2 separate regions of the Homo sapiens genome follow, and region 1 is linked to region 2. The links come from fine-mapping of genetic effects on gene expression. A gene starts in region 2. The other region holds a variant in brackets. All regions are shown on one strand. Distances are between the middles of the regions. Region 1 overlaps TOP3A (DNA topoisomerase III alpha). Region 2 holds the start of LLGL1 (LLGL scribble cell polarity complex component 1).

Region 1 (10,620 bases), 55 kb before region 2:
GTAAAGACTCCTGGAGGGTGGGTGTTTGGGAGAGGGCATGGAAGCTACCCCTTCCCCACATCCCTTGCCCTGTGCATTGCTTCCATCTGGGTATTCACCTGGATCCTTTGTAATTAACGGGTAAGCATAAGTAAAGTGTTTCCCTGAGCTCTGTGAGCCACTCTATTGAGAATCAAACCAAGGAGGGGGTCTGAGGAACCCCAGTTTATAGCCAGTCAGTCAGAAGCACAGGTCACAGCCTGGGATTTGTGACTGACATCTGAGGGAATTTGGGGCAGCAGTCTTCTGGGACTGAGCCCTTAACCGTTAGATGGATCTCCAGGTGCATAGTGTCAGAATTGAATTGAATTAGAGGATGTCCAACTGGTGTGTGGCGGGAGAGTTGCTTGGTGTATGGGGAAAACTCCCATACATCTGGTGTCTGATGTGTGTTGTGAGACTGTAATAGAAGATAACAGTTTGTTATTTTCTGTTCTTTAGAGTACCCCATGCCAGTTGTGAAAAGGCAGGCATGAGCTAGTTTAGACTTAATACAGACAGACACTCCTGGAGTTTGTACATGGACCCTGTGCAGTTTTACTTTTTTTTTTTGAGATGGAGTTTCGCTCTTGTTGCCCAGGCTAGGGTGCAATGGCGTGATCTTGGCTCACCACAACCTCTGCCTCCTGGGTTCAAGCGATTCTCCTGCCTCAGCCTCCTGAGTAGCTTGGATTACAGGCATGCGCCACCATGCCTGGCTAATTTTGTATTTTTAGTAGAGACGGGGTTTCACCATGTTGGTCAGGCTGGTCTCGAAATTACAACCTCAGGTGATCCGCCCGCCTCGGCCTGGGATTACAGGCGTGAGCCACCACATTTGGCCCAGTTTTACTTTTTAATGTGGGCTGGTGACAAGCAGAAGCATCTGCCTGTATCTGGACTCTCCTCCCAAGAGTTGGTTCGGCACCAGGGCCCATGGTGAGCTCAGTCTTCTGTCTGCCGTCTGTTCTCTGCAGGAGGCCTGCGGCTCACTGACCAGCTGGTTCTCAAGGTCACGCCTGTTGTGTGCATGTAAGAGTGTTGTAGGTGCCTTTGCAGCGATTGCTGGCTGATGGGTGTCTGTCTTTGCCTTTTCTTCAGATTGGACGAGGCCTTGGCCCAGTACTTTGGGAATGGGACAGAGTTGGCCCAGCAAGAAGATATCTACCCAGCCATGCCAGAGCCCATCAGGAAGTGCCCACAGTGCAACAAGGACATGGTCCTTAAGACCAAGAAGAATGGCGGGTGAGTGCGCTGCCTTCTGCCCCCACCTCTGCTCCCCAGCACCTGCGGTGTCAGCCGTAGCTCGAAAGACCCTGCCATTTCACTCCATGGAATCTTTCAAGACAGGCCTGTTGTTGCCAACCTGCAGGCAAGGTGTTGGCCTAAAAGCATAGCAGGGTGGGATCAGGCCTTTGAGGTGTAAAGCACTATGGGAATTCAGAGCAGGTGAGAAACTGAATGATAGTGGGGTTTTTTTGTCCCCTGTGGATAGGACATCATATACCCAATGTGTAACACATGGAGGAGCATGAGCTTCAGATCTAGGTGGGTCTGGGTTCAAATGCCACTTATGCCGCATATAAGTGGTGTGGCCTGAAGCAAGTTACTTACCTGCTCTGAACCCCAATTTCTTCTTTTATAAAATGTCAGTACTTACAAGGCTGTGTTAAGGGTGAGGATTTGGTGAAAATGGTCAGGACTATATAGCACATTGCCTGATGTGTTGTAGATACTCAGCAGATACTACTTTTGTTCTCTCCTAGTTTTAGTTCTGAATGGGGCCTGAAAATCTCAACTCCCTTTTCGCTTTAAATATAGTAGATCTGAGTGGGCAATTTAGCTTCACATCAGGTTGTTGGAGCCAGTGGCTGGCCACTGGAGGAAGTTCACGGGGAAAGACGAGGTGGAGGGGTGGCAGCCATCATTCATCAGGTGCCGTCCCTCACTGGTGTAATGCAGGGTGGTGCTCTGTAAGCATTACCTCATCCCATTCTCCTAACTACCCTGCAAGGCAGGGATTTTTATGCAGCTTAGAGGGCTGAGGTGCTTGCTTGGAGTCAAGCAGCCGTGGTGGGCAGCAGAGTTTGAAACCGGGTTTTCACTGCCTTTTTCCATCCTGCCTGGCCCACCTGGGACTGCTGTGCTCCTTGCTGCTGAATAAGAAAGGAGGTTTCTCAACTCCTCACCTCCAGCCATCATTAACCTGGCTGGCCCAAGTGAAGAGAAGGCCACCCAGGCTCTCAGAAACAAGAGGTCTATGGGCCAGACCTGGAAGCAGGTGTCAGGGCTCGCGTCACTCACAGACAGAAGCCAGTGCCACTCTAGGCTTAGCCCAATGACTGGGCGTATATTTCAGCACTTAATAAATGCTGTCGATGGGTTTTCCTTGCTATCGGTAGGTTATTGGATTAGTACTCATTGGAATATAAGGAGAGAGAATAACTACTTTTGTTTTAGCTCTGAATTCTCCAATTCTCTGAATTGGAGAATTATTATTATTCTTTAGTTATTCGTTTGTTCTTCTGTTATTCTTTTGTAATGCTTCTCTGAGTTACTCCAGAAGGTCAGGAGATTATCTTGTGGGATTTGCCACTCCATGATTTATCTGTTAATTTCCATTTCTGAGATTGTAAATTTCTTATTTAAATGATTGGAGTTCGGGGCTTTTTTTTCCTTCATAGTGTACCCAGGCACACTCATGAGGAATTTGTAAATCACATGCATATTAGCTAGTCAAACCCTAACGTTTCATGACTGCAAGGTGTTGAAAAACATTGGCCAGGAGAGACCGGGATGGGATGGATGGGCAGTGGGTGGGGTGTAGATGTTGCAGGTGAGGCTTTGTCACAAACAGATGGGTTTCCATTCCTGGCTCCCATCCACACATGCATGCATGTCTCTGGGCAGGTTTCCAGGCCACACCAAGCCACTGTTTACTCACATGCAAACTGAGGGGGCCCCTGACACTGCCCAGACTTGGCACGAGGCAGAAAGGCAAGAATGTGTGAGTGCACAGCACAGAGCCCCTGGCGTCAGCTTGGTTGGTTGTTGGTTTTCTAAATAGAAAGCAGGGCCAGCAATAGCTGCTTTGTGCTTTTGGGATGTGAGAAGGCTCATTTTTCCCAATCAATTCAATATGAGTGCTTGTGTATCCAGTTAAGTGTCATCCAGAAAAGGGAATGTTGTCCTCGGGCAGCTGAGGAAAGGCTGCCTTAGCTGATGGCCAACAGCGGAGAGCATCTCCTGCACTCCTATCATCTGACATGGCACTTTGTCCCCAGGTTCTACCTCAGCTGCATGGGTTTCCCAGAGTGTCGCTCAGCTGTGTGGCTTCCTGACTCGGTGCTGGAGGCCAGCAGGGACAGCAGTGTGTGTCCAGTTTGTCAGCCACACCCTGTGTACAGGTGAGCTGGGCACCTGAGTCAGGTGCCTCCTCTGGAGTGTGTACACCATCTTTCCCTTGCTCCTGCCAGAACCCAGAGAGGAGTGTCGGGGATTCCACTCAGGCCCTGCAGGGGCGTAGCTGTGTTCTGCAGCAGCCAGTTCAGCAGGGCTGGTCCAGTTCTGTTGTGTTCCATGCTGTCACTGCTTTGGCAGGTATGACCCTGTTTGGAGTGGGCCATGGGCAAAGAACCATGAAGGGCTCTTTCCCTGCCCTCTCCAGATAGATGATTGCTACACCAGGCTTAGGAAATTATTCACATATTAAATACAACATCCAAGCTTGGGCTACGTAGCAAGACCCCATCTCTTTAAAAAAAAAAATTTTTATTTAAAAAAAAATTTTTTTTAAGACAGTCTCGCTGGGTTGCCCAGGCTGAAGTGCAGTGGCGCAGTCTTGACTCACTGCAACCTCCGCCTTCTGGGTTGAAGTGATTCTTCTGCCTCAGCGTCCTGAGTAGCTGGGATTACAGGCATGCACCACTATGCCTGACCACTTTTTGTATTTTTAGTAGAGACAGGGTTTCACCATGTTGGCCAGGCTGGTCTCGAACTCCTGGCCCCAAGTGATCCACCCACCTTGGCCTCCCAAAGTGCTGGGATTATAGATGTGAGCCACTGCACCTGGCCAAAAAAAATTTTAAATTAGCCAGATGTGGTGACATATGCCTATAGGCCAAGCTGGTCAGGAGGCTGAGGCAGGAGGATCGCTTGATCCTAGAGGTCTAGGCTGTAGTGAGCCATGATTTCACCACTGCTCTCCAGCCTGGAATGACAGAGCCAGACCCTGTCTCTAGAAATAAATGAATAGGCCGAGCCTGGTGGCTCAGGCCTGTAATCCCAGCATTTTGGGAGGCCGAGACAGGCGGATCACGAGGACAGGAGATCGAGACCATCCTGGCTAACATGGTGAGACACTGTCTCTACTAAAAATACAAAAAATGGCCAGGCGTGGTGGCTCACGCCTGTAATCCCAACACTTTGGGAGGCCGAGGTGGGTGGATCACGAGGTCAGGAGATCGAGACCATCCTGGCTAACATGGTGAAACCCCGTCTCTACTAAAAATACAAAAAATCAGCCAGGCGTACTGGTGGGCGCCTGTAGTCCCAGCTACTCGGCAGGCTGAGGCAGGAGAATGGCGTGAACCCAGGAGGCAGAACTTTCAGTGAGCCGAGATTGCACCACTGCACACCAGCCTGGGCGACAGAATGATACTCTGTCTCAAAAAAAAAAATTTTAATAATTTATTTCTAGTAAATGCATTGCATACTACTGTAAATAACTTGTTTTTTAGGGTAATAAAATACCTATTTTCAAAAGCAAAATAATAATGACATTAATGACATTGTTTTACATTTTGCAATTTGTATGTCTGGCTTAATAGAAGAGAGCTGGATTCCCGTATCTGCTTCTGCAGTCAGCCTGCTGAGTCATTGCATGTGCTGGAACCTCCAGGAAACTCCGTTGTATACACATGGAAGAATAAGAGCAAAATAGACATAACCTCTTAGAATTTTTTTTGAGACAGAGTCTTGCTCTGTCACCAGGCTGGAGTGCAGTGGCACAATCTTGGCTCACTGCAACCTCTGACTCCCAGGTTCAAGAGGTTCTCCTGCCTCAGCCTCCCGAGTAGCTGGGACTACAGGCGCGTGCCACCATGCCCAGCTAATTTTTGTATTTTTGGTAGAGATGGGGTTTCACCATGTTGGTCAGGATGGTCTCAATCTCTTGATTTTGTGATCCGCCCGCCTCAGCCTCCCAAAGTGCTGGGATTACAGGTTTGAGCCACCACACCTGGCCTATAAAAGAGTTTTGCACTCTCCTTGAAAGGGCTCAGGCACCCTGGAACCACACTTGGAGAACTGCTGATACAGAGACATGGGACTTCTCAGAGGTGTTTTTATTTTAGTGAATTACTGGGATCTTAGATTTCATCTGCACTGTTTCCCACTGTCCACTCCTGTGATGACTGGTGGGGGCTTGTGGTGGGCTGATAGAGGGCCTCACAGGGGACTTGTGTGGGCTTCCTGATGCATAAGGAATGGTGGAGAGAGGCCTAGGGCTAAAGCAGCCCTCACTGGACTAAGGAGAAGCTGGCATCTGGTTGTTAATGTTTTTTCTCATCTTCTGGCCTCACTAGGTTAAAGTTAAAGTTTAAGCGCGGTAGCCTTCCCCCGACCATGCCTCTGGAGTTTGTTTGCTGCATCGGCGGATGCGACGACACCCTGAGGGAGATCCTGGACCTGAGATTTTCAGGGGGCCCCCCCAGGGCTAGCCAGCCCTCTGGCCGCCTGCAGGCTAACCAGTCCCTGAACAGGATGGACAACAGCCAGCACCCCCAGCCTGCTGACAGCAGACAGACTGGGTCCTCAAAGGCTCTGGCCCAGACCCTCCCACCACCCACGGCTGCTGGTGAAAGCAATTCTGTGACCTGCAACTGTGGCCAGGAGGCTGTGCTGCTCACTGTCCGTAAGGAGGGCCCCAACCGGGGCCGGCAGTTCTTTAAGTGCAACGGAGGTAGCTGCAACTTCTTCCTGTGGGCAGACAGCCCCAATCCGGGAGCAGGAGGGCCTCCTGCCTTGGCATATAGACCCCTGGGCGCCTCCCTGGGATGCCCACCAGGCCCAGGGATCCACCTAGGTGGGTTTGGCAACCCTGGTGATGGCAGTGGTAGTGGCACATCCTGCCTTTGCAGCCAGCCCTCCGTCACACGGACTGTGCAGAAGGATGGACCCAACAAGGGGCGCCAGTTCCACACATGTGCCAAGCCGAGAGAGCAGCAGTGTGGCTTTTTCCAGTGGGTCGATGAGAACACCGCTCCAGGTGAGGCAGGGAGGGGCATGGGAATCCCTGCCTTCAGTTTTCAGGTGTTTACCTCAGAGACTGGGGACAGCAGAAAGAAGGCAAGGCAGGGTCATGGTGGGATTGGGAGGGGCACCTGGGCTGCCTTGCACCTCACTTTTCCTCACTTGATCACTTTCAGCAAGGTGATAATTGTACAGTCCTCATTCCAAATTAAAGGGTAGCTACCAGTAATGGTGTCACTTGCCCTATGCCTGGCACTATGCTAAGTATACTTCCTGTGCATCTTCCATCCTCATTGGGTAAGCATTATGATCACAATTTTACTTATAAGTGAGAAAGGTGAGACCCAGACACATGAAGTGGGTATTGCTCAGGGTCCCATAGCAACAGACACCAGGATGAGTACATAGGCCTTCCCAGTCCCATGGCCATGTGCCCTTGCAGCTGTCGTGACCCTTGGCAGACCATAAGCATCAGCCTCATTTCTTTTTTTTTTTTTTTTTTTTT[G/TG]GAGACTGAGTTTTGCTCTTGTTGCCCAGACTGGAGTGCAATGGTGCAATCTTGGTTCACTGCAACTTCCACCTCCCAGGTTCAAATGATTCTCCTGCCTCAGCCTCCCAGGTAGCTGGGATTACAGGCATGCACCACCACGCACAGCTAATTTTGTATTTTTAGTAGAGACGGGGGTTTCACCCTGTTGGTTAGGCTGGTCTCGAACTCCACCTCAGGTGATCCACCTGCCTTGGCCTCTCAAAGTGCTGGGATTACAGGCGTGAGCCACCGTGCCTGGCCCAGCCTCATTTCTTCAGATGAAGATGCCAACCCCGATGATATTTAGGAACCTGCCCAGGGTGACACAGCTTGGGCCAATGTCCGGGAACTGGGTGTCATGAGAAGTGGCACCTGGACATTGCATCAAGTTGAATGGTGTACGTGGAGGCACTTTGAATGGTTCCTCCTGCTCCAGTGCACAACAGAGCTTAAGTAGCTGAGAATGACCCAAAGGCCTAGTGGGAGCTTTGGAGTTGAGCAAATCTGGTTCCAAAGCTCAGCAGTATAACCTTGAACAAATGACTTAGCCTCTCTGCCTCAAGTTTGCTCAACAAGATGGTCCCTGCCTACATTCATAGGGTTCCTGTTTTAGAAAGGAGTTTAGTCTCAGACTATGATTCTTACACATGTGTCACTAGCCCGGCATGCACAGAAAGAAACCAGAGGTTTGGTAAAAACTGTGGGACTTGGAACTGGCTACCAGTGCTAATGGGGCCCAGAGATGGCCATTGCAGTGAGAGACCCACATTTGAAGTGAGATGCAGTCTGGCCTCTTGTCTCCCCACTTGGAAGGACATGGTATCTGACCTCCAGGCTGGCTGACTGACTGTCCTGGGTAAATGAGCAGCTGGTCTGGAAAGGCCTGTTGAGGGGACAGGAAGGGATCCAGAGCTGGACTTTCCTGCATGGAGGTGGGCCGCAGGTTGCCGGTCATAGGCTGCTTGTCTTTCCCACCCTACCACACAGGCCAGCTTGCTTGGGTTTCTGCCTCTGTAAAAAGGGCCGGCATGAAAGTCCACTTACCAAGTGAGTGTGGGACAATGTCTCCAAAGCTTAGGATTCTTGAGGGAGAGGTGTCAGGTAACATAAGGCAGCAGGCACATCGCACCTCAACCTTACAGAGTTGGACACAGTGTGAAGGGAGGCTGGCTGGTGGGGTGTACATGGCTGTATAAAAACTGATTCAGCCGGTCGGGCGCGGTGGCTCATGCCTGTAATCCCAGCACTTTGGGAGGCCGAGGCGGGTGGATCACGAGGTCAGGAGATCGAGACCATCCTGGCTAACACAGTGAAACCCCGTCTCTACTAAAAATACAAACAATTAGCCGGGCATGGTGGTCGGTCCCTGTAGTCCCAGCTACTCTCGGGAGGCTGAGACAGGACAATGGCGTGAACCCGGGAGGCGGAGCTTGCAGTGAGCCAAGATTGCACCACTGCATTCCAGCCTAGGCGACAGAGCCAGACTCCACCTCAAAAAAAAAAGGCCGGGCACGGTGGCTCACGCCTGTAATCCCAGCACTTCGGGAGGCCAAGGCGGGCGGATCACAAGGTTAGGAGATCGAGACCATCCTGGCTAACATGATGAAACCCGTCTCTACTAAAAATACAAAAAATAAAGTAGCCGGGCGTGGTGGCGGGTGCCTGTAGTCCCAGCTACTCGGGAGGCTGAGGCAGGAGAATGGCGTGAACCCGGGAGGTGGAGCTTGCAGTGAGTGGAGATCACGCCACTGCACTCCACACTCCAGCCTGGGTGACAGAGCGAAGACTCCATCTCAAAAAAAAAAAAAAAAAAAAAAAAAGTTGGTTCAGCCTTATCGTCTGCTGCTCTTTTTTTTTTTTTTTTTTTTTTTGAGACAGGGTCTTGCTCTGTTGCCCAGGCTGGAGTGCAGTGGTGTGATCACAGCTCACTGTAGCCTCCCAGGCTCAGGCATCCTCCCGAGTAGCTGTGACCACAGGCATACACCACACCTGGCTAATTTTTGCATTTTTTAAAGACAAGGTTTCACCATGTTGCCCAGGCTGATCTTGAACTCCTGGGCTCAAGCAATCCTCCTCCCTCAGCTTCCTAAAGTGCTGGGATTACAGGCATGAGCCACCGTGTTCAGGACTTGCCACTTCTGCATGTCAGTTCTAACCTCACCCCTCCCCTGACTCTCCCGACAGGGACTTCTGGAGCCCCGTCCTGGACAGGAGACAGAGGAAGAACCCTGGAGTCGGAAGCCAGAAGCAAAAGGCCCCGGGCCAGTTCCTCAGACATGGGGTCCACAGCAAAGAAACCCCGGAAATGCAGCCTTTGCCACCAGCCTGGACACACCCGTCCCTTTTGTCCTCAGAACAGATGAGCTCAGGGTAGGGTAGAGAACGCCACTTTCTCAGACCTGTCCCCTTTGTGTTTAGAAATGAGTTAACCAGGACCAAGTGGCCATTTAGTGTCCTGGAAACTTAGAGGACAGTGTTGGCCTTTGGAGTCGGGCCTTCTTGTGTTAAGGGGCACAAGGTCCAGATCACTCTGGAGCAGGCCAGCTCTGCTGGACAGTGACCCTCTTCCCAGGCCTCAGGAGTGACCATAGCCACTGCTGAAAAGTCACGCAGCTGCTCCCTCGGACCCCCCAAGGATGGTTGCTGTTAGCAGAGGATTGGTGCAGTCCCAGCTGAAGCCCACTGTGTGCCAAAGGAAGAAGCTCCCAGGGCTGCTTCCTTCACCTGCAGAAAGCCCCAAGTGAGCCACCAGCACTCATGGGGCAGTCCCTGTCCAGGCTGCCCAGGGCTTCTCATAGACGTCCTGAGAAGGACGGTGTAATGCAAGGAAATGGCTGTGGTAACACTGATCCTTCAGAAGAAGCTTCATTCCCTCTTAATCTAGTTAAGCCAGGACATCCAGAATTCATTGCTTTAATAAAGAACCCAGGCCGGGTGCAGTGGCTCATGCCTGTAATCCCAGCACTTTGGGAGGCTGTGGGGGGCGGATTGCCTGAGCTCAGGAGTTCGAGACCAGCCAGGGCAACATGGTGAAACCCTGTCTCTACTAAAATACAAAAAATTAGCCAGGTGTGGCGGTGTGCGCCTGTAGACCCGGCTACTCAGGAGGCTGAGGCAGGAGAATTGCTTGAACCCGGGAGGCGGAGGTTGCAGTTAGCTGAGATTGCGCCACTGGACGACAGAGCGAGACTCAGTCTCAAAAAAAATTTAAAAATTTAAAAAAATAAAAAGAATCCAACCCCGGCAGGGCGTGGAGGCTCACACCTGTAATCCAGCACTTAGGGAGGCCAAGGCTGGAGGATTGCTTGAGATCAGGAGTTCAAGACCAGCCTGGGCAACATAGTTAGACCTTGTCTCTATTTTTAAAAATATAACAAGCACAGTTGTACACGTCTTTAGTTCAGCTGCTCAGGAGGCTGAAGTGGGAGGATCCTTTGAACCCAAGAGTTTGAGGCTGCAGCAAGCCATGATCACACCACTGCACTCCAGCCTGGGTGACAGAGTAAGACCCTGTCTCAAACTTTTTTTAAAATGAAAGAATCCAACCTTTTTTTACTCTGACCTGCGAGAGTGCAGAGGGTCTGGGGAACATTTGCAGAAGCAACAGGTACCAGCCAGTGCTGGAAGGAGCTCACCCTGGGAGGTCTCGTCAGCCTCTGTCCTTCATGGCTGTCCCTTGTGTCCCATGTGGAGAGCCCTTCCTCCCTTTCCACATGGTAAGCACTGAGCCCAATTTCTTCTCACCCCACAGATGGTCCCTCAGAGCAGAGATGTCTAATGAAAGGTTCAGATTCAGATCACTAACTTTCCATCTTCCACTTTTT
Region 2 (15,827 bases):
AGACTCCATCTCAAAAAAACAAAACAAAACAAAAAAAACCCACCTCCCTCCAAAGCAGGCAGCCAACAACTGCCATCATGAGGGAGGAGAGACTCCAGCCTGCCCATTTCACAGATGAGCACACAGACTTGGAGGGGGTGGATGACCTGCTTGAAGTGCCCAGTGTCAGTGCCTGAGTCCCGGCAACTCCAGGGCTGATGGTGGACAGCAGGGCCTGAGGGGGCCCCATGACAGAGGGTGCAGGGAGGAGTCAGCAACGTTGCCCCGGTGACAACACAGGAGCCGTTGCCTGGAGCTTGAGCTCAGATTCCCTACAGGAGCCTGGCGAGAAACTCCGAAGAAGGGACAAAAGAGGGGACAGGAGCAGCTGGGCGGGAACCAGGGTCGTCAAGGAGATGGGGCTGGCCTGGCAGGGGGAGGGGCAGCTTCTAGTGACCAGGGCTGGCCCTCTCCAGCCTCAGTTTCCCAACCCAAGGGGCTCCAGGCAGTGGCAGTCAGGGGAAAAAGGGAAGAGGACCCCGGGCTCCAGCCTCCTTTCTGAGGCTCAGTCTCCTCATCTGCACTTCAGGTTCTTTTTGAGCCTGAGGACAAGTGCACTGGAGACCCCAACACAGGAGGGACACCTGAAGGCTGCAGGGACACATGTGCGCACGCAGCGCAGCACCCACAGGAGTGGGAGCAGCAGGCCAGGCAGCGGAGCATGTGGGGCCCAGAGCACTGCCACACTCACCAACAGAGGCCGCTGGGGCCATGGGAGAGAAGGGGACATCTCAGCCCATCCACACTCCCCAGAGTAGGCAAAGAGCTCACAAACCACAGGCTCAGAGTCCCATCCCTGCCTGATCAGTGCCCCCAGTCCTGGGGTGAGGAGACCCCCATCCCACACCCTCCCCTTTCCCAGCACTGACACATTTTCTGGGAACTGATGTCTGAAACCAGGATACTGAAACCCAGAAGGCCACACAGGAGGGGTAGGGGTCAGCACCCCTCACCAAGCCGCCATCAGCCAGACCCTGGCACCTCGGCTTCCCCAAGAGCAGTTGGGGTGGGATTCTCCAGGGCTGGCAAGGAGACACTGAGCTGCCGGCCTGCCCCCACCCCCACCCCAGGCCTGCAGGGAAAATGCCCGCTTTGTGTGGCTCACACAGCCCATTGTGCAGCAGCCAGTATCCAGGTGGGGGCCGTGCTGTGCTCACCATGCCGAGCCTGGCACTGCCCCCAGGCCCCTTTGCTGAACACATGTGTCTTCACATTCACACATGTGTGCATCAGCTCACCAGGGCCCCCAGCCCACCTGCCACCCTCCATGGGTATCATAGCCCAGCCTTCTGCCTGGCCTCCCCAGAGTTGCTGGGACGATGGCAGGGTCGCCTAGGTAACTGGCTGGCTGACACGTAGCAAGGGACAGCTGTGCTACTGCAAACTGACCCCCCACCACCCGTCTCTCAGCAAAAGGACCCCATCATCTCTGCACAGTTGTCTCAGGTACAGAAGCCACGCCAACCTCCGCAGAAGCCCCCACTACTGCCCATCAGAGCACCTCTGTCCTCCTCTCGAGCTGGACACTGCCAAGACTGGGACCCCAGAGCACAGGGAACTACAGGCAGGTGGTCCTGAACAGACCCTGAACACCTGTCCTGCAAAGGATACATCTTGACAGCCCCAGACCTGGTGCCGATGGCCATGATGCGAAGTTCCGGGTCGAAGGCCAGGGCGCTGGGCTGATTGGGGAAGCCATGCTCCACAGTCTGCAAGGAGGGGAGGGCTGCTGGGGGTAAGCACTCCCAGGCACCTCTGCCATGGCCCACCCTGAGGCCCACCCCAAGGCAGCCTCCAGGGTCTGCAGCTGACACACTGGGGGTAGGAGGCAGGTCTACTTGCTCTGTGCCTCAGCGTCCTCAACTGTGAAATGGGTTATCATGCCTCCAGTTGGTGGGGAGGTGGCTAAACCCCTAGCCTCCACCATGACTGTACCGCGTGCATAGTCCACAGAGGCCCGCCCTTTGCCAAGCCCCTGTGCCCCTCAATGCACACAGGCTCATGTGGGCCCCACTGCATGGAGGCTCCAGCAACAAACAGGTGAAGCAAGGCTCACAGAGGTGCAGGCACTGATGAGGCCCCACCTGCTCCATGAAGGGCTCTGCACCCCATTTTTAGAGGCACAGACTAAAGCTTGCGGAGGAGTCCCGCAAGATGACCATGACACTCCCCAAACACAGGCCTGAGTGGAGGTCAGAGGTCAAGGGACAACATCCAGGATCAGCTAGGCAGAGGCTTTTGACTCCTCCCAGACACAGGGAGACAGAGGCCCAGAGAGGGGTAGCTTTCTGCCTGGACCCCGAAGGCATCCTCCCACCTCCCCACCTGCCAACAGCTGGGCAACATGACTCCCATAACCATCAGGGGCGGAGATGGTGTTAAGGGGGTCTGTGTGCCCAGAGTGTCGATGAAACAGCTCCCCACCCGCTCCCCTGCCCCTTTCACAGCACACCCTTTCTGCACCAGTCTCCTGTCTTTGGCCTGGCTGTGCCCTCCCTGGGAAGCCTGCACAGCTGAGCTCCAGCCCCATCCTGAACACCAGTGCAGGACACCCACGTGGGCCACTGGTAACTCCTTTTATCTTGTTGTTGTTATTTATTTTTCACTTTTACCACTGGTAATTCCTGACCCACTGCCTCAGGAAGATGCACATTTGTAAGAAACCCCAGTTCCCAGCCTGTAACGCGAACCTCCCTCCCTGCCTGCCTCTGCCCATCCAGGTGGGGACTGAGCCCTCTGGGCAGCTGGTTTGGTCACGGCCTAGCTGTCTGGCCTTGGGCAAGTCACAGTACTCTCCAAGACTCAGTACTCTCCAAGCTTCAGTCTCTCATCTGGGCCCTTGGGACAGTAAGCCCACCTAAGGACAGAGTTGGCGATTTGGCTGGGGCTTCTCTCTCCCACCAATAATACCACGCCCTTGCTGCACCTGACCTTGTCTAGCCAGTCCCTCGCTACAACCAGGGTCCAGAGACGGGACACTGCATCGCAAATCCCCACAGCCTTCCCATTTTACAAACGAGGAAAGGAGGTTACATGCACTGTCCAGCATCTGCTTCCCTCATACCCCACGTCCAGTCCATTTCTGAGCCCCATCAACTCAGTTTCAAAACACACAGAAGTCACCTCCCTCCCTGCTCCAGGCCCCACCGTCACGTGCCTGGATTGGTACTCACTACAGTCTGTTCCCACAGAGGCCAGAGGGATCCTATGAAAGCCACAGCCAGATCCTTGTCCCTCCCCTGCTCAGGATCCTCCTGGGGCTCCCAGCTAAGGGAGGCTTGTGCCTCAGGGCCTTTGCACCTACTGCCCCTCTGCCTGGAACGCACTTCCTCCAGCACTTCCTGTCGCTCAGGAGTAATCTCCTCAGAGAAGCCTCCCAAGGCCACCCTGGCTGCAGCAGCCGCCCTGGCCACACCTCTCACCCCCTCGCCCTACTTTATTTGATCCACAGCACTGGCTACCATCCCAACTACAGTCTATTTTACTTTTTTGTTTTGGCTTTTCACTGTCTCCTGCACAACTATATCAGCCACCTGAGTTAACAGGTATTTGTCCTTTTTGGTAACTACTGTTGTCCCCAGCACCTTGGAGACCTCACACACAGTGGGGCTCAGTATTAACAGAGAAGGCACATTCCACAGGCGATGTGTGGGCTGGACTGGGATTTGAACCCAAGACTCAGAGTCCAAAGTCCCTGCTCACTCCTGACCTGTCTCCCACCCCCTAAGCTCAGGAATCAGGGGCCTATTCCCTAGCGATCACCTATTACCCACTTAGGTGACTAAGTCCCTTCCCCAAGACCACCCCACTTTCCACCACTGCTGCCCACGCTTCATCCTCAGCGGAGGGCCCTTACTTTCCGCCACCCCAAGGCTAGCCAGAGTGGGCTGAGCTTCACCCCCATCTGTCTCCAGCCCCCACTGCACACCCCAATTCACTGGCTGAAGAAATGACATTTAGGCCAGGCATGGCAGCTCATGTCTGTAATCCTAGCACTTTGGGAAGCCAACATGGATGGATAGATAGCTTGAACCCAGGAGTTCGAGACCAGCCTGGGCAACATGGTGAAACCCCATCTCTACAAAAAATACAAAAACTAGCCGGGCATGGTGACACGAGCCTGTAGTCCCAGCTTCAGGAGGCTGAGATGGGAGGATCACCTGAGCCAGGGAGTTGTGAGGCTGCAGTGGACTGTGATTGTGCCACTGCACTCCAGCCTGGGTGAGAGTGAGACCCCATTTCAAAAAAAAAAAAGTGACATTTAGCCCTGTGCCTGTTGCTGCCTTTCCCTGAAGGGCCATTCTCCTCTCACCTCACCCTCACAGCCTCCCCGGCACAGAAAATAGGTGCCATCTGGGGACCACGGAGCACCAGCTTCCCTTCTGGGCCCCTCTCAGGTTCCTAGCAGGTTCTCAGCCACCGTGTGAGGGTCCTGGCAGCTCTCATCGGCAATCACTGCAGACCTAGGCAGGGAAACCCTGAGACATCCCAGTGCCTCCACTACTCCAGGTCCAGCCGTCCCAGAGCCTCCTCCAAGACAAGTGTCTCCTCAAGGCAGCCCAGGGCGCCTGGCACAACACTGGCCCAGGACCACAGCAGCCCCTTGGAAAAATCCCTGCCCCTCAAGGCTAAAATCCAACCCCACTGACACAAGAACTCAAGAAAGATATTGGTGCAGCTCACTCTGACTCCGGGCAAGCCGTCACCCCTCTCAGAACCTCAATTTTCTCACCTGTATTTTGAAGATAACTCTAATTTCGAAGAGCACTGAGAGGCTCTGCCATCAGTGGGCTCTGGGGTAAGAATGAGGACAAAACCAACGTCCCCAGAGCAGTGAGCCAGGAGTGGGCTGAGGCCCTGCTCTAACATCAGTGCAGAGGGAGGCGGGGGCTGAGGCGGCCCCTTTCCCTGGCCCCTAGTGTCCCACTCCGGGAAAGGAAGGAAAAGCCTCCACCTCACTCCACCTTGGTGCAGAAAGGCAGGACAGCTGGCCCATGTGGCAGAGGGAGCCAGGGCCCACAGTATGGAGAAAAGTAGCCTCATTTCACAGCTAGGGAAACTGAGGCCCCACGATGCGAAGTGCAGTGTAGTACACAGCCAGGCATGTCCCCTGGACTCGGAGCCCCGGGCAGGGCAGAGCAGGGCAAGGCAGAGCCTGGAGCAGTGGGGGAAGGAAGGAGAGGCTCCTTGAAGGGATTTCCCAGCCGCACCCCCCACAGCTGCCTCGCCCCCACTAACTCTCTCACCCTCCTGGGTGCCAAAGCACAAAACAAACCGGGCCCCAGGGCTGTCCCAAGGGCCGAGCAGGGACGCAATGGAGCCCCTAAGAAAAAGGATAAAGAGACAGAAGTGAGCGACAGAGGTCGAGAGACTCCACAGAGACAGAGAGAGAGACACGCAGGGAGAGACAGGCAAAGAAGACTCAGAGACGCACAGGCAGCAAGAGAAATGAGAGGCAGAGAGATAAAGGGAGACAGGCAGAGATAGGAAGGGGCAGAGGCAGAGACACCCCCACCACACACACAGGCACAACTGGGGCGAGACAGCCGGTCAGCGGCGGAGAAAGAGGGACAGAGACCCAGAGACAGGCAAAGAGTCTCAGAGACAGACCCCCACACACACAGACTGGCAGAGCCAGGGCCAGAGCGGCCCGCAGAGACTCGGGGAGCAGACACGGAAAGTCGGCCGGAGACCCAGACCCACCCAGAGTCCGAGCCAGAGCGGGGCCCGCCGAGGGGGTGCGCGGCCCGGCCCGGCCCCGCCCCGCGCCGCGCTGCATGCCAGCCCCCGCCCCCCGGGCCCGACGTGGCTCCGACCCCGGGCCCCCAGCCCAGGCCCCCGTCCCGCCCCCTCCCGCCCGAGCCCGGGCCCGGGCCGCCGCCGCACCTTGTTGAAGGCGAAAAGCTCCTGCTTGAGCTTCTCGCGCTGCGGGTCGGCGCCCTGCCGCCGGAACCGAAACTTCATCATCTTGCGCCCGGCTGCAGGCGCCTCGCCCGCCGCCGCCGCCCGCAGGATGCGCCGCGCGGCCCCGCGGGTCCTAAGGCGCGGGCGGGGCGCCAGGCGGCCCGGGCGCGGGCGCGCGGGGCCGGGCCTGCACGGGGGTGGGCGCCGGGCGCGACGGACGCGCCGCCCGACCAGTGAGCGAGCCCGCCGTGCCGCCCGCCCCGCCCCTGTTGGCCAGACAATGGTGAACTGGGCCCCCGGGCTCGGCCGGGCTCGCGAAGGGACGCCCGCCTAGCATGCGCCGCGGCGCGGGGCCTGCCGGGACTTGTAGTCCATGAGCCGGGGCTCCAGCGCGGGCGGCTGGGGAAGCGCTTTGGAGGGGGATTGGCGCACGTTCCCGGGCTTGGAGGAGACTTTTTCCTCCTCCCAGAGAGCGAGCGACGTGCCCACTCATGTAATGGGGCAGCCCTGTTCCGAAAGCCAAGACAGCTCTGACTGGAACAACTCCCTGGCCCCTCTGCGCCTCAGTTTCCCCATCTACACCATTGGTCAAGTGATTGCCAAGTTTATATTTTACCAATTTCACAGAACTCCATTTCGTCTGTTCCCCGCTCTGTCAGAGCACCTCCCACCGCCGTGCTTTTGCCTTGGCTTTGTAGTCAGGAATTCTTTCCTCACCCCCAGCCCCTGGGGAACTCCTACACATCTTTCAGGACCCAACGCAAAAGGCTCTGTGTCACAGCACAGGGGATTCTTTCTTAGCCAAAGAAAGAGACGGGATCCCCAGGAGGTGGCATTTGGGACTGTTCTGGGGTTGGATTGGAGCTTTACGGAGATGGGGGAAGGACCTCCCCCCGCAGAGAACAGCGTCTGAACAAAGCTTAGCCCTGCCCCTACTCTCAGGGGCCGTCTGCCTGTCCCCACCCACCTCCCAGGCCTTTTCTCATCTGGACAATGGCCTCGAGGCTGAACCTTTCCTTCCAGGCTGAGGATAGGCCGCCTGGCTCAGGGCTGGGGCTGCGGGAGGTCCTAGAAGCTTAGGTGGGGCAGGTAGGACAGGCCCCAACCCCACCAGCTGTGTCCAGGGAGCAGGAGCTGACCTCTGAGCCCGAGGCGGCTGCCAAGCCTTGGGGCCTGGCTGTCCCCCTCCACCCACGCCAGGCCGGCGGTGTTCAGCCCTTCCCCGTATTTGGGGCTGGATCCGGAAGAGGGCCCAGGAGTGAGTGAGGAGGTGAGAGGAGGGAGAATGACGACAGTAAAGCCCCTAAGTGTCTACTGCGGGGCAGGCGCTGTTCAAAGCCCTTTCCTGGTTTCAGCTGACTTAGTGCTGTCAGTAGCTCTACGAGGGAGCCAACAATATTACCCATCCCAAATGAGGAAGCTGAGACCATCAGCCAAAGGCTGTTAGTTGTTGGCAGAGCTGCTGGACTGAGGAGGATGAGACCCCTTTGGCCACTGGCCACGCCACACCAGCACAGGCAGCAGGGACAGCTCAGAGGTCTGGGTTCTGGTCCCTGCCCTGCCTCACACAGGAAGTGTTAAGAAGTTGCTGGCTGGGCGCGGTGGCTCATGCCTGTAGTCCTAGCACTTTGGGAGGCCTTGGAGGGAGGATCTCTTGACCCCAGGAGTTTGAGACCTGACTGAGCAGTAGGGTGAGATCTCATCTCTACAGAAAAAAAATAAATAAATATTTTTTTAATTAGCTGGGCATGGTGGCCCAGCTGTAAATTCCAGCTACTCAGGAGGTTGAGGCAGGAGGATGGCTTGAGCCCAGGAGGTTGAGGCTGCTGTGAGCTGTGATCGTGCCACTGCACTCCAGCCTGGGCAACAGAGCAAGACCATCTCGAAAAAAAGGCCAGGAGCAGTGGCTCACACCTGTAATCCCAGCGCTTTGGGAGGCTGAGGCGGGCAAATCACTTGAGGTCAGGAGTTTGGGAAAAACCCAGTCTCTACTAAAAATACAAAAAATAGCCGGGCATGGTGGCAGGTGCCTGTAGTCCCAGCTACTTAGGAGGCTGAGGCAGGAGAATCGCTTGAACCCAGGAGGTGGAGCTTTCAGTGAGCCGAGATCATTTGCTCTCCAGCCTGGGCAACAAGCGTGATAAATGAAAAAAACAAACAAACAAACAAAAAAAAAACGTTGATTCACATTCCCACTTTACCATTTGGAAGCTATGTGACCTGGAACAAGTTACCTCAAATTCTCTGTGCCTCAGTTTCCTCATCAGTAAAAATGGTGATAATATTAGTATTTACCTCAAAGGGTTGTTGTGGAGATTAAATGTGTCAGGGTAATATGAACCAGAGCAACTCCATCTTGAATAGGAGGTGGGTAAAATGAGGCTGAGACCTACTGGGCTGCATTCCCAGATGGTTAAGGCATTCTAAGTCACAGGATGAGCTAGGAGGGGGTCGGCACAAAATACAGGTCATAAAGACGTTGCTGATAGAACAGATTGCAGTAAAGAAGCTGGCCAAAACCCACCAAAACCAAGATGGCCACGAGAATGACCTCTGGACATCCTCACTGCTACACTCCCATTAGCGCCATGACAGTTTACAAATGTCATGGCAACGTCATGAAGTTACTCTATATGGTCTAAAAAGGGGAGATATGAATAATCCACGTTTAGCATATCATCAGGAAATGACCACAAAAATAGGCAACTTGGCCGGGCACGGTGGCTCACGCCTGTAATCCTGGCACTCTGGGAAGCCGAGGTAGGTGGATCACCTGAGGTCAGGAGTTTGAGACCAGCCTGACCAACATGGAGGAACCCCATCTCTACTAAAAATACCAAATTAGCCGGGCATGGTGGCACATGCCTGTAATCCCAGCTACTCGGGAGGCTGAGGCAGGAAAATTGCTTGAACCCGGCGGGCGGAGGTTTCAGTGAGCCGAGATTGCACCACTGCACTCCAGCCTAGGCAACAAGAGTGAAAATCCATCTCAAAAAAACAAAGGACAACTCTGCCTATGGAGTAGCCTTTTTTTCCTTTTTCTTTTCTTTTTTCTTTTTTTTTTTTTGAGATGGAGTCTTGCTGTGTTACCCAGATTGCAGTACAGTAGCACTATCTTGGCTCACTGCAGCCTCTGCCTCCCAGGTTCAAGTGATTCTCCTGCCTCAGCCTCCCAAGTAGCTCGGACTATAGGCATGCGCCACCACACTCAGCTAATTTTTGTATTTTTAGTAGAGACCGGGTTTCACCATGTTGACCAGGCTGGTCTTGAACTCCTGACCTCAGATGATCCGCCTGCCTTGGCCTCCCAAAGTGCTGGGATTACAGGCATGAGCCGTTGCACCCGACACCCAATCTCCATTTTTCTTTTTCTTTTTCTTTTTTTTGAGACAGAGAGACAGAGTTTCACTCGGTCGCCCAGGCTGGAGTGCAGTGGTACAATCTCAGCTCACTGCAACCTTTGCCTCCCAGGTTCAAGCGATTCTCCTGCCTCAGCCTCCTGAGTAGCTGGGACTATAGGTCTGTGCCACCATGCCCAGCTAATTTTTTGTATTTTTAGCAGAGACGGGTTTTCACCGTGTTAACCAGGATGGTCTCGATCTCCTGACCTCGTGATCTGCCTGCCTTGGCCTCCCAAAGTGCTGGGATTACAGGTGTGAGCCACCGCACCCAGCCAGCAGTCCCCATTTTTCAATGGGACTTGGTTATTAGGCAGTAAGCAGCCATGCCTTTCCCAACCCCTATCTCACAGTTTTTTGGGGAGCAGGGCAACAGAACTGAGTCGAGACCACAGCTAACCATAGCTCACCGTCCTATGATGGGGCATGCACTGGGGCTGTGGGAGCCCAGAAGAGGCATCTGGCCCAGGGTCAGTGTCCTGCTGGGAGAGGACAGTGCACATGGGTTGTAATGGGTAAGGAGTGTACCTAGTGGAAGGAGCCAGGGGATAGGCAGGGAAGAGTCTCATGGCAAACGGATTCGCAAAGTGTCAGTACCCCCACCCCACAACACACACACACTTGTTAATTCAGATTCTAGGTCCTGCAAATGTGAATGACAGGCGAGTGGGGCCCCAGAATCTGGATTTTAAACCAGCTCCTTTCCCAAATGACCCTGAGGCCTAGCTTGGCCCCATCTGATCAGGTTAAGAGGGGTCAAATGGGTATACAGATACAAATGGGTAAACTGAGGCCTGGGCATGTAGGCCCAGCCTACCCATACCATCAGGCAGGGTTCAGAAATGGCACTAGAGAGGGCACCATCTCCCAGGCTGGGAGGGTCTGGGACACTAATGACTGTTTTTCTGTCCCCTCCCCCGCAAGTCAGGGCAGCCCAGGCCTATGATTACCACAGCAGCCCCAGGGGGCAGAGATTGGCACAGATGGCCATGCCAAGTCAGCTCATTGCTAGAACAAGAAACTGAGGGTCAGGGGAGCCCAGACAAACAACTGAACACAGGGTCCCGGTCATCTCAGGTGCCCACCCATCCTTGGAGCTGGGGGAGGCAGGAGGGTTCCTGAGTCAGCAGCACTGGCAGGGGAAGCTGGTTCTTCCTTCAGCCTCCCAGCCTCAGGTCAATCTCAGGCTAGGGGGGGGCTGCCTTCTCGGCATTTCCTTGGTGGGGTGTCCCCCTCCTCTCACCTCCTCCTAGGCTCCCATAGGGCTCTCACCCAGCTCTGGAGTCCGCCTTCAAATCCCAAGACATCCCCTTGCTCATTGGGTGACCTCAGCTAAACCATGAGTCCACCCTGGGCCTCAATTTCCTCATCTGTAAAATGCAGTAAGGACTAAATGAGATGACTCAAAACAAGATTTGAGGCCGGGCGCGGTGACTCACGCCTGTAATCCCAGCACTTTGGGAGGCCGAGGAGGGCAGATCACGAGGTCAGGAGATAAAGACCATCCTGGCTAACACGGTGAAAACCCATCTCTACTAAAAATACAAAAAATTAGCCGGGCGTGATGGCACAGACCTGTAGTCCCAGCTACTTGGCAGGCTGAGGCAGGAGAATCACTTGAACCCAGGAGGCAGCAGTTGCAGTGAGCCGAGATCAGTGCCACTGCACTCCGGCCTGGGCGACAGAGCGAGACTCTGTCTCAAAAAAAGAGTTGAGCACAGGACCCAGCAGGGTTTGTTCCTAGTGAACCAGCTGTGCCTAGAATAGCGCCTGGCACATAATTAATGCTCGACACATTTAAAACAACAGATTAAAGCCGGGCACAGTGGCTCACGCCTGTAATCCCAGCACTTTGGGAGGCTGAAGCAGGTGGAATACGAGGTCAGGAATTCGAGACTAGCCTGACCAACATGGTGAAACCTCATCTCTACTAAAAATACAAAAAAAAAAAAACATTAGTCAGGTGTGATGGTGCATACCTGTAATGCTCAGGAGGCTGAGGCAGGAGAATCACTTGAACCCAGGAGGCAGAGGTTGCAGTAAGCTGAGATCACGCCACTGCACTCCAGCCTGGGTGACAGAGTGAGACTCCGTCTCAAAGAAAACAATTTTAAAAAATAGATTAAAGATCTGAGGCCGGGCACGGTGGTTCACACCTGTAATCCCAGCACTTTGGGAGGCCAAGGTGGGCAGATCACTTGAGGCCAGGAGTTTGAGTCCAGCCTGGCCAATATGGTGAAACGCTGTCTCTACTAAAAATACAAAAATTGCCGGGCCCACTCGCTCACGCCTGTAATCCCAGCACTTTTGGAGGCCAAGGCTGGTGGATCACCTGAGGTTGGGATATCGAGACCATCCCGGCTAACACGGTGAAACCCTGTCTCTACTAAAAATACAAAAAATTAGCCAGGTGTATGGCACATGCCTGTAATCCCAGCTACCCTGGAGGCAGAGGCAGGAGAATTGCATGAACCTAGGAGGCAGAGGTTGCAGTGAGCCAAGATATTGCACTCCAGCCTCGGCAACATGAGTGAAACTCCATTTCAAAAAATAAATAAATAACAAAATAAATAAAAATAAAAATATAAAAATTAGCCAGGTGTGGTGGCGCATGCATGTAATTCCAGCTACTTGAGAGACTGAGGCAGGAGAATCGCTTGAACCCGGGAGGCGGAGGTTGTAGTGAGCCAAGATCGCACCACTGCACTCCAGATTGGGCAAGAGTGAGACGCTGTCTCAAAAAAAAAAAAAGAAAACAAACAAAAACAACAACAAATAATCCATACTGTTCAGGAGTTAAGTCCACAGAAGTGGCGGTTTGGTGGTTGATGGGATGTAAGTAGGCAGGTAGGTGAACAGGATGGCATGCATTGAAGGTGTCTTCGGACGTAGGTGCCCCAGTAAAGGCTATATCTGTGCATATCTCCCTGAATCCTCATAGATACCAGAACAACCCTGTTTTATAGACAGTAAATGGAAGATACGTGTAGAGAAGTGACTTGGTCACTCCTCTGCAGAGGGAAAGAGAAAGGGTGATCTCAGGGAGCGACAAGTGGGGAAGCTCCAAGGGAGGTAGATTAGGGTCAGTAAGGAAGTGGGAGGAAAACCAAGAGTCTGACTGAAGAAGGCAGGCCCTGGCTTTCAGAAGCTGGCCCAGATCCCAGCTGAGGCCATGACCCTCTCGAGCTGCCCAAACCACGGACTCAACTTCTTCCTAGTGGCTCCTGGGGGGCCAGATCTGGCAGGCTGGAAAATTCCTGGAGTGGTCTAGGTTGGGACAGAGCTAGGCAGGGCCCAGGATGGAAGGAGAGAGATGAGGGAGTGGGAGAAAGGGTGGGCTTACTGAGACTCCAAGACAGGGTCAGCAGACCAGCCCAAGCCAGGGAGGAGTGAATACCTCATCCCATGTGGTATGCAAATGAAGCTGAAGCTTAATAAGGTCTTGTGTCCTTTAGGTCCAGACAGAAGGGAGCAATGGATTTAGGGCCTCCTCAATCTACAGAGAGTGAATAGTGTTGTGTGCCTCCATGAAAGAAAGGCCAGACAGGTAGGGGGAGTGTTGGGGCTGACCTACTCTGTCCTTGTTTTATACAAGGGAGGAAGCTGAGGTTCAGAGAAGTGACCTGCCCAAGGTGACAGGTGAATAATATATGAGTCCCTGGACCTCTAACCGAGTGCTCCTTCTCTGGAGGCAGGACTCTCAGCCCTGACACTCGCTGAGCCTGGATCCTGAGTATGCTTTTCTTGGCTCATGCTGGGCTACAGGAACGGGGATCTGGGCACACCTGCTCCCTGCAAGGACTGTCAGGATTGAGGCCCAAGGGGCTGGGTATGTGGACATTACCACAGACCTGTTGGAAGGTGGGGCTTTGTGTTTCACTTCTCTCTGGTGCCCCAAGTGCTAATCCTGCCTCTGCCACTTTCCCTCTCTGGGCCTGTTTTCTCATCTGCGAAATGCGGGCTAATATTAATTGCTACCATTTATTAACACTGAGCACTTAGTCTGTGCCAGGCACTAGTTATTCCTTTAATCTTATGCCCATTTTACAAAGGAAGAAACTGAGGCCAGAGAGGTTAACTTGCCCAAAGTCACACAGCTAGTATATTGCAGAATCAGGATGTAAACCTAGTCCCCTCATGACGTCTCAGAGGTTGCAGCGAGAATTAAATGAGACAGTAAGTTAATGGCCTCACTCAATGAGAGTGCAGGAGAAGGTGGGAGTTAGGGCCCTGTTTCCCAGCCTGGAGTGGAAACACTGGGACCACAGAGTACACTCTAGGCAGTGCCAAAGGAGGCCCCGGTCTGGGTGGGGGAGCCCAAAGGCACCCCTGAAAAGCCTGGGAGGGGGCCAGAGAAGGTAGCATGGAAGAGAGCTGCCTGAGGCAGAGTACTGGCACTTGCAAAGATGTCTAGAACTCTCCAAGGAGCTGGGGCCAAGAGAGGTAGCGTGGGGCCCAGGCTGGGACTGCTGTTATGTGTGGCCTGGGGGTGGACCTGATGGCATCTGCTTGACCCACAGGTCCCAGTGCCCCTCCACACCTACTAGGATTAGTAAGGAAGTGGGAGGAAAACCCTACTAGCCCTGAGATCCCTGGCTGAGAAGGGCAGAAGCAGTGGGGAACCTAAGTTATTGGCTCTGAGTAACCTCTGGCAGGTTCGGGGGTCTCTGGGGACCTCAGTTCCCCATCCAAACCAAGGGACAGCTGCTGGCCCTTGCCCTCTACTCTGAAGCACCATCACTCAGGCTATGCTGCCACACTGTGGACACAGGAGGAACTGCGGCAGCAAGCGCCTCACACCTAACTGGAGGACCCCAGCCCTGACACTGCCCGAGCCCTTAGTTTTCCATCTCTCACAAAGACAGTGGATTTTCTTTTTTCTTTTCTTTCTTTTTTTTTTTTTTGGGGGGGGGGACGGAGTCTCACTTTGTCACCCAGGCTGGAGTGCAATGGCGCGATCTCGGCTCACTGCAACCTCCGCCTCCCGGGTTCAAGCGATTCTCCTGCCTCAGCTTCCCAAGTAGCTGGGATTACAGGTGCCTGCCACCATGCCCGGCTAATTTTTTTTGTATTTTTAGTAGAGACAGGGTTTCACCAGGTTGGCCAGGATGGTCTCGATATCTTGACCTCGTGATCCGCCCACCTCGGTCTCCCAAAGTGCTGGGATTACAGGTGTAAGCCACCGTGCCAGGCCTTCCTTTCTTTCCTTTTCTTTTCTTTCTCTTTCTCTTCTTTTCTTTCTTCTTTTCTCTCTCTCTCCTCTTTCTCTCTCCTCTCTCTTTTAGACAGTTTCACTCTTGTCGTCCAGGCTGGAGTGCAATGGCACGATCACAGCTCACTGCAACCTCTGCCTCCCGGGTTCAAACAATTCTCCTGCCTCAGCCTTCCGAGCAGCTGGGATTACAGGCGCCCACCACCAGGCTGGCTAATTTTTGTATTTTCAGTAGACACAGGGTTTCACCATGTTGGCCAGGCTAGTTTTGAACTCCTGACCTCAGGTGATCCACCCACCTCAGCCTCCCAAAGTGCTGGAACTACAGGCGTGAGCCACTGCACTCAGCTAAGAAAGTGGTTTTCTTATTGATTTTGACAGTCCTCTGCACAGCAGCACCAGTGATCCTACATCTGTTCACATCACTCCTCTGCTCAAACTCTCTATGGGAATCTAGTGGTGTGCTGGAGCCCTCTGCAAGAGCCAAATGGCAAATTTTCAAGAACTTTTGTGAGTCAGTTGTTAAAGTCATTAAAAATTAATTATATAAAATTAAAATTACACTAAAAACTAAGGGTAATATTAAAAACTAAGCATTTCCTACTTATTTTGCCACATTTTCCTATTATCTGTACTCTTGGATTACATCTATTGTATCTGTATGGTGGAAACACTATATATTGGGGTGTTACTGCACATTTCTTCACAGCTCGATGTTCAGTGACCTTACCTTGATCAGCTGCAATCAGCCATGATAACCCCTGGACTTAAGCAATCCTCCCGCTTAGCCTCCTGAGTAGCTGGGAATACAGGGTGTGCTGCTGTGCCCAGCTCTATAGTTTTCTAGACCAGTACCATCCAACAGAAATATAATGCAAGACACATATGTAATTTTCATTATTGAGTACCCAGATATAACAGTAACAGAAAACAGGTGAAATTAATTTAAATAGCTTTTTTTTTTTTTTTTTTTTGAGACAGAGTCTGGCTCTGTTGCCCAGGCTGGAGTGCAATGGCACGGTCTCGGGCTCACTGCAACCTCCGCCTCCCAGGTTCAAGCAATTCTCCTGCCTCAGCCTATTTTATTTAACCCAGTATGTCCAAATTTAACATATGTCCAAAATAGTTTTTTTTTTCTTCTTTTTTGGGGGGGTTTTGAGACAAAGTCTCGCTCTCTCACCCAGGCTGTAGTGGCACGATCTTGGCTCGCTGCAATCTCTGCCTCCTAGGTGCAAGCCTGCCTCAGCCTCCCAAGTAGCTGGGATTACAGGCGA

What was found.
Region 1: its variant is fine-mapped to the expression of LLGL1 in whole blood (INTERVAL, PIP above 0.99).

The regions. Positions count from the first base shown.
Region 1 is chr17:18,273,341-18,283,960 of GRCh38, reverse strand. TOP3A (DNA topoisomerase III alpha) reads left to right here. Exons shown (of 19, transcript NM_004618.5): 16 at 1,120-1,263; 17 at 3,303-3,425; 18 at 5,604-6,286; 19 at 8,981-10,620. The coding sequence ends at 9,159. Among named protein-coding and RNA genes, the nearest start is that of MIEF2, 18 kb to the right of the region's middle. The variant G/TG (reference allele first, on the strand shown) is at 6,776.
Region 2 is chr17:18,215,862-18,231,688 of GRCh38, reverse strand. It overlaps LLGL1 (LLGL scribble cell polarity complex component 1), which reads right to left and starts at 6,054. Exons shown (of 23, transcript NM_004140.4): 1 at 5,926-6,054; 2 at 1,651-1,748. The coding sequence starts at 6,006. RefSeq lists enhancers at 1-334, 335-1,170, 14,009-14,108 and silencers at 5,593-5,762, 5,913-6,392.